Homo sapiens: one gene and its partners. The protein of the gene in region 1 interacts with the protein of each later gene in a pairwise test. Each region holds a gene or a part of one and is shown in the gene's direction. Other genes may lie near its edges.

Evidence for each region.
Region 2: the proteins of KASH5 (region 1) and TMEM11 interact in binary tests that used the Homo sapiens proteins (3 or more experiments, as listed by UniProt).
Region 3: the proteins of KASH5 (region 1) and PPP1R18 interact in binary tests that used the Homo sapiens proteins (3 or more experiments, as listed by UniProt).

Annotation. Positions count from the first base shown.
Region 1 is NC_000019.10:49,405,119-49,408,764, forward strand, and holds part of KASH5 (protein KASH5), read left to right. Parts: intron 1-1,767; coding exon 1,768-1,845; intron 1,846-2,121; coding exon 2,122-2,178; intron 2,179-2,493; coding exon 2,494-2,553; intron 2,554-3,646. UniProt on the Homo sapiens protein: As a component of the LINC (LInker of Nucleoskeleton and Cytoskeleton) complex, involved in the connection between the nuclear lamina and the cytoskeleton.
Region 2 is NC_000017.11:21,200,664-21,204,163, reverse strand, and holds part of TMEM11 (transmembrane protein 11, mitochondrial), read left to right. Parts: intron 1-3,500. UniProt on the Homo sapiens protein: Plays a role in mitochondrial morphogenesis.
Region 3 is NC_000006.12:30,684,434-30,688,179, reverse strand, and holds the start of PPP1R18 (phostensin), read left to right. Parts: upstream 1-1,534; 5' UTR 1,535-2,133; coding exon of another isoform or gene 2,134-2,161; coding exon 2,162-3,746.

The DNA of each region.
Region 1 (3,646 bases):
CAATCAAAGTAAATGTAAAGAAATCTCTGAGACAACCAAAATGAAAAAGGAGCACAGGCCCGGTGCAGTGGCTCACCCCTGTAATCCCAGCACTTTGGGAGACCAAGAAGGGTGGATTACCTGAGGTCAGAAGGTCAAGACCACCCTGGCCAGCGTGGTGAAACCCCGTCTCTACTAAAAATACAAAAATTAGCCAGGTGTGATGGCGTGTGCCCGTAATCCCAGCTACTCTGGAGACTGAGGCAGGAGAATCGCTTGAACCTGGAAGGCGGAGGTTGCAGTGAGCCGAGATCACGCCATTGCACTCCAGCCTGGGCAACAAGAGTGAAACTCCTCTCAAAAAAAAAAAAAAAAAAGAAAGAAAAAGGAGCACAAACTTTCTAGTATGAGATGATACTGAGTTATTGTTAATTTTGTTAAGTATGATAGTGGTATTGTGGTTTTGCTAAAGGAAATAAGTCCTCAAGTAGGAGATAAATGCTGGAGTAACTACAGGTGAACTAATATGATGCCTGCAATTTGCTTTAAAGTAATCTACTTAAAACATCTGGAGGAGAGCCGGGTGCGGTGGCTCACACCTGTAGTCCCAGCACTTTGGGAGGTGGAGGCAGGTGGATCGCCTGAGGTCAGGAGTTCAAGACCAGCCTGGCCAACATAGTGAAACCCCGTCTCTACTAAAAATACAAAATTAGCTGAGCGTGGTGGCACATGCCTGTAATCCCAGCTACTTGGGAGGGTGAGGCAGGAGAATAACTTGAACCCGGGAGGCAGAGGTTGCAGTGAACCAAGATCATGCCATTGCATTCCAGCCTGGGCAACATGAGGGAAACTCCGTCTCAAAAAAAAAAAAAAAAAAAAAATTAGCTGGGTGTTGTGGCAGGTGGCTGTAATCCCAGCTACTAGGGAGGCTGAGGCAAGAGAATCACTTGAACCCAGAAGGCAAAGATTGCAGTGAACCAAGATCGCACCATTGCATGCCAGCCTGGGCAACAAAAGCAAAACTCTGGCTCAAAAAAAAAAAAAAAAAATCTGGAGGAGAAACATCTCAGTTTAAACAAAACCGAGAAAATGCATATAATTATTGAAGCTGGGTGATAGATAATGTGGATAACAGGCTGCTTATATTGTTCTTTTGATTTTAAAATTGGGGATAAGAAATGAGTCAACACATGCAAAATGCTCAGTAAGTGTTAGCGATTATTAACCTATCTAATCTTTACAGCAATCCCATAAAGTAGGTCCTAGTTAAGCTCCGTTTTTTTGTTGTTGTTTTTTCCTGAGACAGTCTCGCTCTGTCGCCCAGGCTGGAGTGCAGTGGGGCGATCTTGGCTCACTGCAACCTCCGTCTTCCCAGTTCAAGTATTTCTCCTGCCTCAGCCTCCTGAGTAGCTGGGATTACAGGCACGCACTACCATGCCCAGCTAATTTTTTTATTTTTAGTAGAGACGGGGTTTCACCATGTTGGCCAGGCTGGTCTTGAACTCCTGACCTTGTGATCCGCCCGCCTCAGCCTCCCAAAGTGCTGGGATTACAGGCGTGAGCCACTGCGCGTGGCCTAGCTCCATTTTTATAGATGGGGGAGCCACACTCAAAGAAATTAAAGCTGTGGTCCCACTGGAATGGTTGGAGGAATTAAATGGGTTAAAACATATGAAGTGCTTAGCATGAGGCCTGATGTATATCAATCAAGTGTTTAGCAAATATCTGCTGTTAATTTTGACATTACCACTTGCTGGAATGAACGTGACCAGCCATTCCTTCTTCTAGAACGGGAAGCTGCTTGCCGAGCGGGATGGAGTGAAAAAGAGAAGTCAGGAGCTGGCCATGGAGAAGGACACTTTGAAGGTGCCACTCCTTCCTAGTGCCTGACAACTTTCCACCACCCCGGGGCCATTTTTCCCATTTCCGGTTTTAGTGACTGCAGCCTGATAAGGGCAGGGTCTTCCATCAAGCTGTCAGGCTCCCAGGACCACCCAGGCATCCCTAAAATCCCTGAAGTCCTGGAACATCTCAGGAGGCTGAATACGTGGGGGTGCGAGAGAACAGGTGGGGCCAGGTGGAGGGCAGGACCAAGGGGAGTCCTGGGAGGCTGGATGGATGGACCGGCTCCTTTCTTGGCAGCGGCAGCTCTTTGAGTGTGAACACCTCATTTGCCAAAGAGACACCATCCTCTCTGAGGTAAGGGGCCCCGGGAGGGAAAGAGATTCGCTTTCCATGTGCACCAGCCACTTCCTGCCCCTGGTCTAGAAAGGGAAGTCCTACTTGGGTCTGATCCTTGGATGTGCAGCTGGAGAGACTGGAGGGTTTCCCCAGGTCCCAAGTGTGACCCCTCAGGGATCTAGAAGCCCTTCTGCCCGGTGCTCTCCCTTGTGCCCCAGCTCTTCCCTCAAGCTCACCCTGTCCCTTAACCCCCCAGCCAGTCCCCCCGCCACCACCACCCCCAGTGTCTTTGGGGAACTGGTCCCAGTCTCATTTGGCTTTCGGCTTTCCTAGCGCACTCGCGATGTGGAGAGCCTGGCCCAGACCCTGGAAGAATACAGAGTGACGACGCAGGTAACTCAGCGGCCCTCGCCACCCACCGCGGCCCTCGCCACTTCTCTTTTGCCATCTCTGGGACTTGCTGCCTCTCCTCCTCGTGCCTCTTTGTCAGTGGCCACATCTTGCTTCTTCCATCCTTGATGTATGACTGTATGACTGCATGTCTCCCCCTCTGTTTCTGTATCTGCCTTTTCACTTTTTCTCTGTTCCTTCCATTCACTTTCATTCTCTGTGGGTGTCTTCTCACACACCTCCTCTCCTTATCTTATTTTTTTTTTGAGACGGAGTCTTGCTCTGTCGCTAGGCTGGAGTGCAGTGGCACAATCTCGGCTCACTGCAACCTCTGCCTCCCAGGTTCAAGCGATTGTCCTGCCTCAGCTTCCCAAATAGCTGGGACTACAGGTGCATGCCAGCATGCCCAGCTAATTTTTGTGTTTTTAGTAGAGACGGGGTTTCACCATGTTGGCCAGGATGGTCTTGATCTCTTGACCTCGTAATCCACCCCTCTTGGCCTCCCAAAGTGCTGGGATTACAGACGTGAGCCACCACACCCAGCCTCCCCTCCTTATCTTTATGTGTCTCTGCGAGGCTCGTGTGGGTTCCTGTCTCTGCCTCTAGGTCTAGGCTGTCTGTCTCCCTAGGCAAGTCTTCTCTGTTTGGCTCTGGTCTTTACCAGTCTCTTAGCCCTCATGTTTCTCTTGCCTGTCTGTGAGTCTGTTTCCATCTATGTCTCATTTTTTCATGCATCTCTGCCTCTGCCTTCCTTCTTTTAATTGTCTTGGCTGTGCTTTTTTTTTTTCTTTCTTTTTTGAGATGGAGTCTGGCTGTGTCACCCAGGCTGGAGTGCAGTGGTGCAATCTCGGCTCACTGCAACCTCCACCTCCTGGGTTCAAGCGATTCTCCTGCCTCAGCCTCCCAAGTAGCTGGGACTACAAGCGTGTGCCACCATGCCCGGCTAATTTTTTGTATTTTTAGTAGAGACATGGTTTCACCCTGTCAGCCAGGATGGTCTCGATCTCCTGACCTTGTGATCTGCCCGCCTGGGCCTCCTGAAGTGCTGGGATTACAGGCATGAGCCACTGCGCCTGGCCTCTTGGCCTGTGCTTTA
Region 2 (3,500 bases), on another chromosome or scaffold:
CTGCACCTGGCCACTTTTTCTTTCTTTTTTTTTTTTTTTTTAAACATAGACTCTATTAATTGCTCTCTTACTGGTCATTTCACACCTGCAATGAAAAGCAAAAATACAGTCCCTTAGGAAGCCCAGGGCTCAAAAGATTCCAACTAGCTCTTACTTAAAAAAAAAAAAAAAAGTCCATATAATTTAAAAAAAAAAAAAAAAAGGAAAAAAAAAGATCTCCCATGCACCAGGGTTCAGATCACCCAGTTCCTAAAGCCCATGGCCTTACCAGTTAGGGGGCAGCTGGTGATGCTCTGCAGTGGTTTGAGATAACCTTCTGACTGGGTTCTTTCCTTCATTAGGTTTTGTTTGACCCACAAGCAGAAGCAAGCCATATACGGGTGGCTGCTGGGTGGTCAGGAGCTGGCTGGACGTGGCTGTCTCCTGGGAGTACTTGGCAGTTTCTTTTTTCTTTTTTTTTCTTTTTTTTCTTTCTGTCATTCAGGCTGGAGTGCAGTGGCACAATCTTGGCTCACTGCAACCTCTGCCTCCCAGGTTCAAGTGATTCTTGTGCCTCAGCCTGCTGAGTAGCTGTAATTACAGGTGTGCAGCACCGCGCCTGGCTAATTTTTGGTAAAGACGGTTTCACCTTGTTGGCCAGGCTGGTCTCGAACTCCTGACATCAAGTGATCTGCACACCTTTGCCTCCCAAAGTGCTGGGATTACAGGCGTGAGCCACCGCACCTGGTCATGGCCACGAATTTCTGAAGTAAGAGAAGTGCAGCAGTCCCTGTCAGCAGTGCAGACCTGAACCCAAGGGCCCAGCAGTGGCAGCTAAAAAACCTGTGTCTGCACTGACAGCACCCCACTCCCACCAGTGTACCAGGAAGTTGGAGTGCTGACTGCCTGGTCGTGGCCGGGTGAGCTCCAACGGAGGGATCCTGCGGCTTTGGGTGCGTCTGTGTGTGTTTTGGTTTGAACCTTACCGTCTCCATATAGGGTCTGTTGCCTTATAGAATCCTAGAAATCCACTTCCCTAGACTTCACGTGTTGTCCTTTCCCAGTGGAAACCGAGATTCCCTTTGCCTAACTGGCTTTAAAAGCAGAATTGGTGAGCCTCTGGCCTCAGCGCCGTTGTGCAGGACCCTGCCTTTGTTTGAAGGCAGTGTGGCTTATGTCCTTTGTGTTTCTGCTGTGGATAGGTGTCTTAGACAGTGGGCAGCAACAGTGCCCAGCCCATATGAAGACGCCGAGGCTGCAGGAGGCCGGGGCCATGGTTTGACAGGCAGGTGGGGGCAGACCCACGCCACCATCTCAGGATGTGTGCTGGCGAGTGCCCCCATGTCCACGTGCTTGCTTATGGCTGTGTCATTCACAGGACTGCCCACAGCCGAGGGCAGAGGATGCCCAGTCTCCTCACTCCCTGTGCTGGGGGGCGGGCCACACCTGGCAACAGCAGTGAGGTGGGAGGGAGCCTGGAGGGCCTTGGCTTCTCGCTGCTTCCAGGCTGGTTGGGACTCGTGGACGCACCCACCCATCCGTCCCAGCAAGCGATGGAGCCTGCAGAGGGGTCTGGGTGGATGTGGGTGCCAGCTGGGCTTGCAGGGGGGCCGGAGGGGGTGAGGGGGTGGGATCTGCCCACTGCTGTGTTTCCAGATGGGGCAGTCGGTTCCAGGACCGGGGTTTCCACTGGAATTTCCTCTGTGGGACCAACAGTGGTTTTCACTACATTCAGGATGGCGCTGGCCTGCTGGGCAGAGAAAGGTACCGCACTAGGGTGGATTTGGGTGTTGGCGAGAACATTGTGTAACCCCAGCTTGACACCTCCCTTTTGCTTTGAGTGTTCCTGAGGGAGGAAGCCCGCCTCTGGTGCCCGCCCCAAGGTGTCCCTGGCCTGGCTTTGACAGTCAGTAGGATGCACAGCTGACTTGGAAGCAACTCCATTTCCGTCTCAAGATTGGGACACGATTTGGTCCTCCACCCCTACCTTGTTATCTGGCCTCTCTGCTCCTGTTGCCTGATGGACTTGAGACCAGAAGGGAGTTCTCTTGGCCAGGAGTGCTCCCACCTGAGAGTGGAGGCCCCGCCCCTCCCCGCACACCCAGGGCCACAGCCAGCCCATTGCGCCACCGCCACTCATTTCTCATCTGAGCACGTGGGGGCACTGCTCGGCCTTCAGCTTTCCAGCGCCAGTGAAGACCCTGCTTTGGGTGTGCTTGTTTGCTGTAGGTAGCTTCTAAAATGCTGCATCTGGCTGGATGCGGTAGCTCATGCCTGTTAATCCCAGGACTTTGGGAGGCCAAGGCGGGTGGAACACTTGAGCCCAGGAGTTCGAGACCAGCCTGGGCAACATGGCATAACCCCATCTGTACAACAAAATTTTTTTAATTAGCCAGGCAGCCAGGCGTGGTGGCACATACCTGTAGTCCCAGCTACTCGGGAGGCAGAGGTGGGAGGATCTCTTGAACCCGGGAGGTCGAGGCTGCCATCAGCAGAGATCACACCACTGCACTCCTGCCTGGGTGACAGAGCAGGAACCTGTCTCAAAAATAAAAACTGTTGAATCCTACCTGGAAGTAACAGCTGGCCTCTCCCTTACCTCTCCTCTAAGACCAAATGGAAAAACTCCACCGAGAACTTTAGAAGGAAAACCCTCCTTTCCCCATTTCATAAGCTGCTCGTGCAGTCTTACAGTAACAGCTCATCATTTCATCCCTGGCGAGGCAGCCGTGACACTGGCACAGTCACAGGTGGCTTGGCAGCAACCCATGTTTAGGAGGCTCTTGTCCCACCCTCAGGGCACTGATTTCTCCCCAGTGCATGCCGTTTAATTAGGGCCTATGATTGAATTAGGAGGCTTTGCCTTAGCCTGGCTTAGTTACAGTGACTTTTTCAGGATAAAGAGTTCCGTTTGCCCAAGTCCAAGCCAGTGCCTTTTATGAAAGTGGTTCCCACCCAGGGGCGGGGTTAGGGTCCCCATGCTTGGGGGCACAGTCAGCCCATTACCAATGACTTTCATCTTTAATGTGGCCACATGAGATCGTTAACTAGTTGTTTATCCAACCAGAATGCAACCCTGCCTGTTAGGTTTGCTTATTTGTTTGCTGAAAGCTTTGAGCTGGGAGGAGTCTCAGTAGTAGGAAGAACTACGATTGCCTGTTCTTTTTCCTTGAAGTTTCCCGACAGTCCGATTTCCACCATCCTTCACTTGGAATTGCTCCCATCTTTGAAGGAGGCTGGAGGGAGTTACCTTCATGCTGGGCTGAGGTTCTGGGGTGGCTTGTTATGAATGTCTTCACTCGTCACTCCCATATTACGGCCAATGGCCAGGTGGCTCAGCTCCCCATGACTCTCCTCTGCACCGCAGCCAGGTGTGCCTGCCAGGACAGGCTGGGCGGACGGGACCTTCGCGTCTGTGCACACTGAGGGCTGTGCTTCTCGTTAGCCATGAAAGGAAGCTAGTTCCTGTCAGGCACATTCGGAGCTTCAGGTACATGGGCCACATTGACCCTTGTGTTGCC
Region 3 (3,746 bases), on another chromosome or scaffold:
AGGCCCTGCCTCTGGGCTCAGACCCCAACCTAGTCAAGGGGATTCTCCTGCTCTTAACTCGATGACTTGGGGCTCCCTGCTCTCCCGAGGAAGATGCTCTGCAGGAAAATAAAAGTCAGCCTTTTTCTACATATGGCATGCAGTCTGTCAGTGTCTCCCAAGCTACAGGGCTGAGTTTGGGAAAGAAAGCCAGAGGGAGCCTGGGAGCACCGAACTGGAGTCTGGGCAGCCACCACGCCCTCTGGCAACCGCTGGGGTTCGGCCACCCCCGCAGACCCGCCCCCACTTTGCCAGAGCGGCCGGGTCCCCATTCCCATTCCTTCAAATCCCCTTTTTCCCGGCAGCCGACCTGTAGACCCAAGGGAGACAGGTTGAAGCTAGAAAGAGTCGGGGCAGCAGCTCTGGTAGGGGAGGGAGCATCCAAAACCTCTGGCTTCTGAGCGCCTCTCCTGCCGCCCATCCACAAAGCCCCCCACAGCCTGGCGGCTGCCCTCGACCCCGCAAAACAAAGGACTTCAGAGGCTGGACCTACAGACCCAGATGAGAAGGCAAAAGCGTAGGGAGGAGCGGCAGGAGATGGGAAGGGCGGGCCCCGCTCGGAGCAGCTGCCGCTTCCTCCCAAAGTCCCACGAGGGGCCTGAGTCACGGGCCACCGCCCTGGGTCGGCGAGCTGGGGGAAGGGATCTGGACACCTGGCGTGTCCGGGCGGGAAGCTGGTGAGGGCCCCTGGGGACAGAGCGGAGGACCAGTGGTTGGGGCGAGAAGAGGGCAGTCCCGCAGCGAGTCCCACGCGGGGTGGGAGGGATCTAGGCCCCGCCCTCTCCTCGGCTCCGCCCTGCGCCCCCTTCCCTCTCCTCATTGTCCTTAGACAAAGCGGTCGCCGCCCCCGCCCGGCCCCCTGGTCTCTGTCTCCGTCCCTCCTCCTTTGCTGCCTCTTTCCCTCCTCCTCTCCCTCCCTCCTCCCCTCCCTCCAGTCTCCGGATCTCCCTCGGTCCCTCTCTCCTCCTCTTCCTCTCTCTGGACGCCCGGCTCCTCCGCACCCCCTCCCCCGGGGGTCCCGCGGCCTGTGAGTTGACTGAGGGGCTCAGACTTGGGGAGTGGGTGTCTCCTCGCCCCTGTCCTTGCTCCCGTCCCTGGCCCGGACCTTGGCTGTCTCCTCTTTGTGCCGAGATTGTCAGTCTGTGCGGCTACAGCGGGGTGGAGACGGCCGGCTCTGTCACGGCTTCATGAGAGCGGGGACGGGGCGCAGGACTTGCAGGCGCCGGGGAGAAGAGACATGGAGCCGGCCCTTGGCACTCTGGGGTCGCGTGGGGCAGTCGGTGGGGGAGGCAGGCGGTGGTGACAGGACAGGGTGGGGGTGGACGCCAGGGTTCTGGGAACGCGCTGGCAGCCCTGACGCCCGGGTTCCGAAAGTCTCGGGGGTGGCTATTTCCCCCGACCCGCCTCGGGGGCGGAGTGCGGGGCAGAGGGGTGGGGGCTGGGGAGAGGCGTGGCCCGAGCGGTGCTGGAAGCGGAGCCGGGACCTTTGGGGCCCGCGCTGAGACGCGCCCGGCTGCTGCCGCCGCCCTCCTTTCCCCTCTTCCCTGGTTTCCCTTCTCCTCTAGACCTGTTCGCTCTCCGCCCCTCCTTGCCTCCCCAACACCCCCTCAGGTCCCGTTGCCTCCTGGTCCTTTCAGGGATTCCTGGTCCTTCCTTCCCACACTAGCCTCCCTGGGGTATCGCTGAGGCAGCCTGGCCTGCACCCAGGTTCCCCTCACCCCTGCCACATTTCTCTCTTCTCCCTCACGCCAACTTTCCTTTTCGCCCTTCTCTCTCTTTCTCACATCCTAGAGACGGTCTTTAATACGCATTAACCCTGTGCTGCCACATCTGGCTCCTGCCCTCATTGCCTCCAATCCGGACTCTTCCTCTCACATCACCCCCACCACCCCCAACTTGGGCTCACAACTTCTCTTCACTTTTTCCATTTCCCCAGTTCTCTGCCTTCCGTCTTTCCCTCTGTCCTCATCCTTAGCCCCTCTGCCCTGCTTTGTGTCCCACCTCTCCCCCTCCACTTCCTCTCCTCCCACCCTCAGTCTCACCCCCGGGCTGTCTCACTCTCTGGAGCCTCTCCTTCCTGTTCTCTGTCCCCAGTGCTCCCTACCCTCACCTCAAGACGACCATGGCCACCATCCCAGACTGGAAGCTACAGCTGCTAGCCCGGCGCCGGCAGGAGGAGGCGTCCGTTCGAGGCCGAGAGAAAGCAGAACGGGAGCGCCTGTCCCAGATGCCAGCCTGGAAACGAGGGCTCCTGGAGCGCCGCCGGGCCAAGCTTGGGCTGTCCCCTGGGGAGCCTAGCCCTGTGCTAGGGACTGTAGAGGCTGGACCTCCAGACCCGGATGAGTCTGCGGTCCTTCTGGAGGCCATCGGGCCAGTGCACCAGAACCGATTCATCCGGCAGGAGCGGCAGCAGCAGCAGCAGCAACAACAACGGAGTGAAGAGCTGCTAGCAGAGAGAAAGCCTGGGCCTCTGGAGGCCCGGGAGCGGAGACCCAGCCCTGGGGAGATGCGGGATCAGAGCCCCAAGGGAAGAGAGTCAAGAGAAGAGAGACTAAGTCCGAGGGAGACCAGAGAGAGGAGGCTGGGGATAGGGGGAGCCCAAGAGTTGAGCCTGAGGCCTCTGGAGGCTCGGGACTGGAGGCAAAGCCCAGGAGAGGTGGGAGACAGGAGCTCCCGACTGTCAGAGGCATGGAAATGGAGGCTGAGTCCTGGAGAAACTCCAGAGCGGAGTCTGAGACTAGCAGAGTCTCGAGAGCAAAGCCCCAGGAGAAAAGAGGTGGAAAGTAGACTGAGCCCAGGGGAATCTGCCTACCAGAAGTTGGGCCTGACAGAGGCCCATAAATGGAGACCTGACTCCAGAGAGTCTCAGGAACAGAGTTTGGTACAACTGGAGGCAACAGAGTGGAGGCTGAGGTCAGGAGAAGAAAGACAAGACTACTCGGAAGAATGTGGGAGAAAAGAAGAGTGGCCAGTTCCAGGGGTAGCTCCAAAAGAGACTGCAGAGCTGTCCGAGACCCTGACAAGGGAGGCCCAAGGCAACAGTTCCGCAGGAGTGGAGGCAGCAGAGCAGAGGCCTGTGGAAGATGGCGAGAGGGGCATGAAGCCAACAGAAGGGTGGAAATGGACCCTGAACTCCGGGAAGGCTCGAGAATGGACACCCAGGGACATAGAGGCTCAAACTCAGAAACCAGAACCTCCAGAGTCAGCAGAGAAGCTTCTGGAATCTCCCGGTGTGGAGGCTGGAGAAGGGGAGGCTGAGAAGGAGGAGGCGGGGGCTCAGGGCAGGCCTCTGAGAGCCCTGCAGAACTGCTGCTCTGTGCCCTCCCCCCTCCCACCAGAGGACGCTGGGACTGGAGGCCTGAGACAGCAGGAAGAGGAAGCAGTGGAGCTCCAGCCCCCACCACCAGCCCCTCTGTCTCCCCCACCCCCAGCCCCAACTGCCCCCCAACCTCCTGGGGATCCCCTCATGAGCCGCCTGTTCTATGGGGTGAAGGCAGGGCCAGGGGTGGGGGCCCCCCGCCGCAGTGGACACACCTTCACCGTCAACCCCCGGCGGTCTGTGCCCCCTGCGACCCCAGCCACCCCAACCTCTCCAGCCACAGTTGATGCTGCAGTCCCGGGGGCTGGGAAGAAGCGGTACCCAACTGCCGAGGAGATCTTGGTTCTGGGGGGCTACCTCCGTCTCAGCCGCAGCTGCCTTGCCAAGG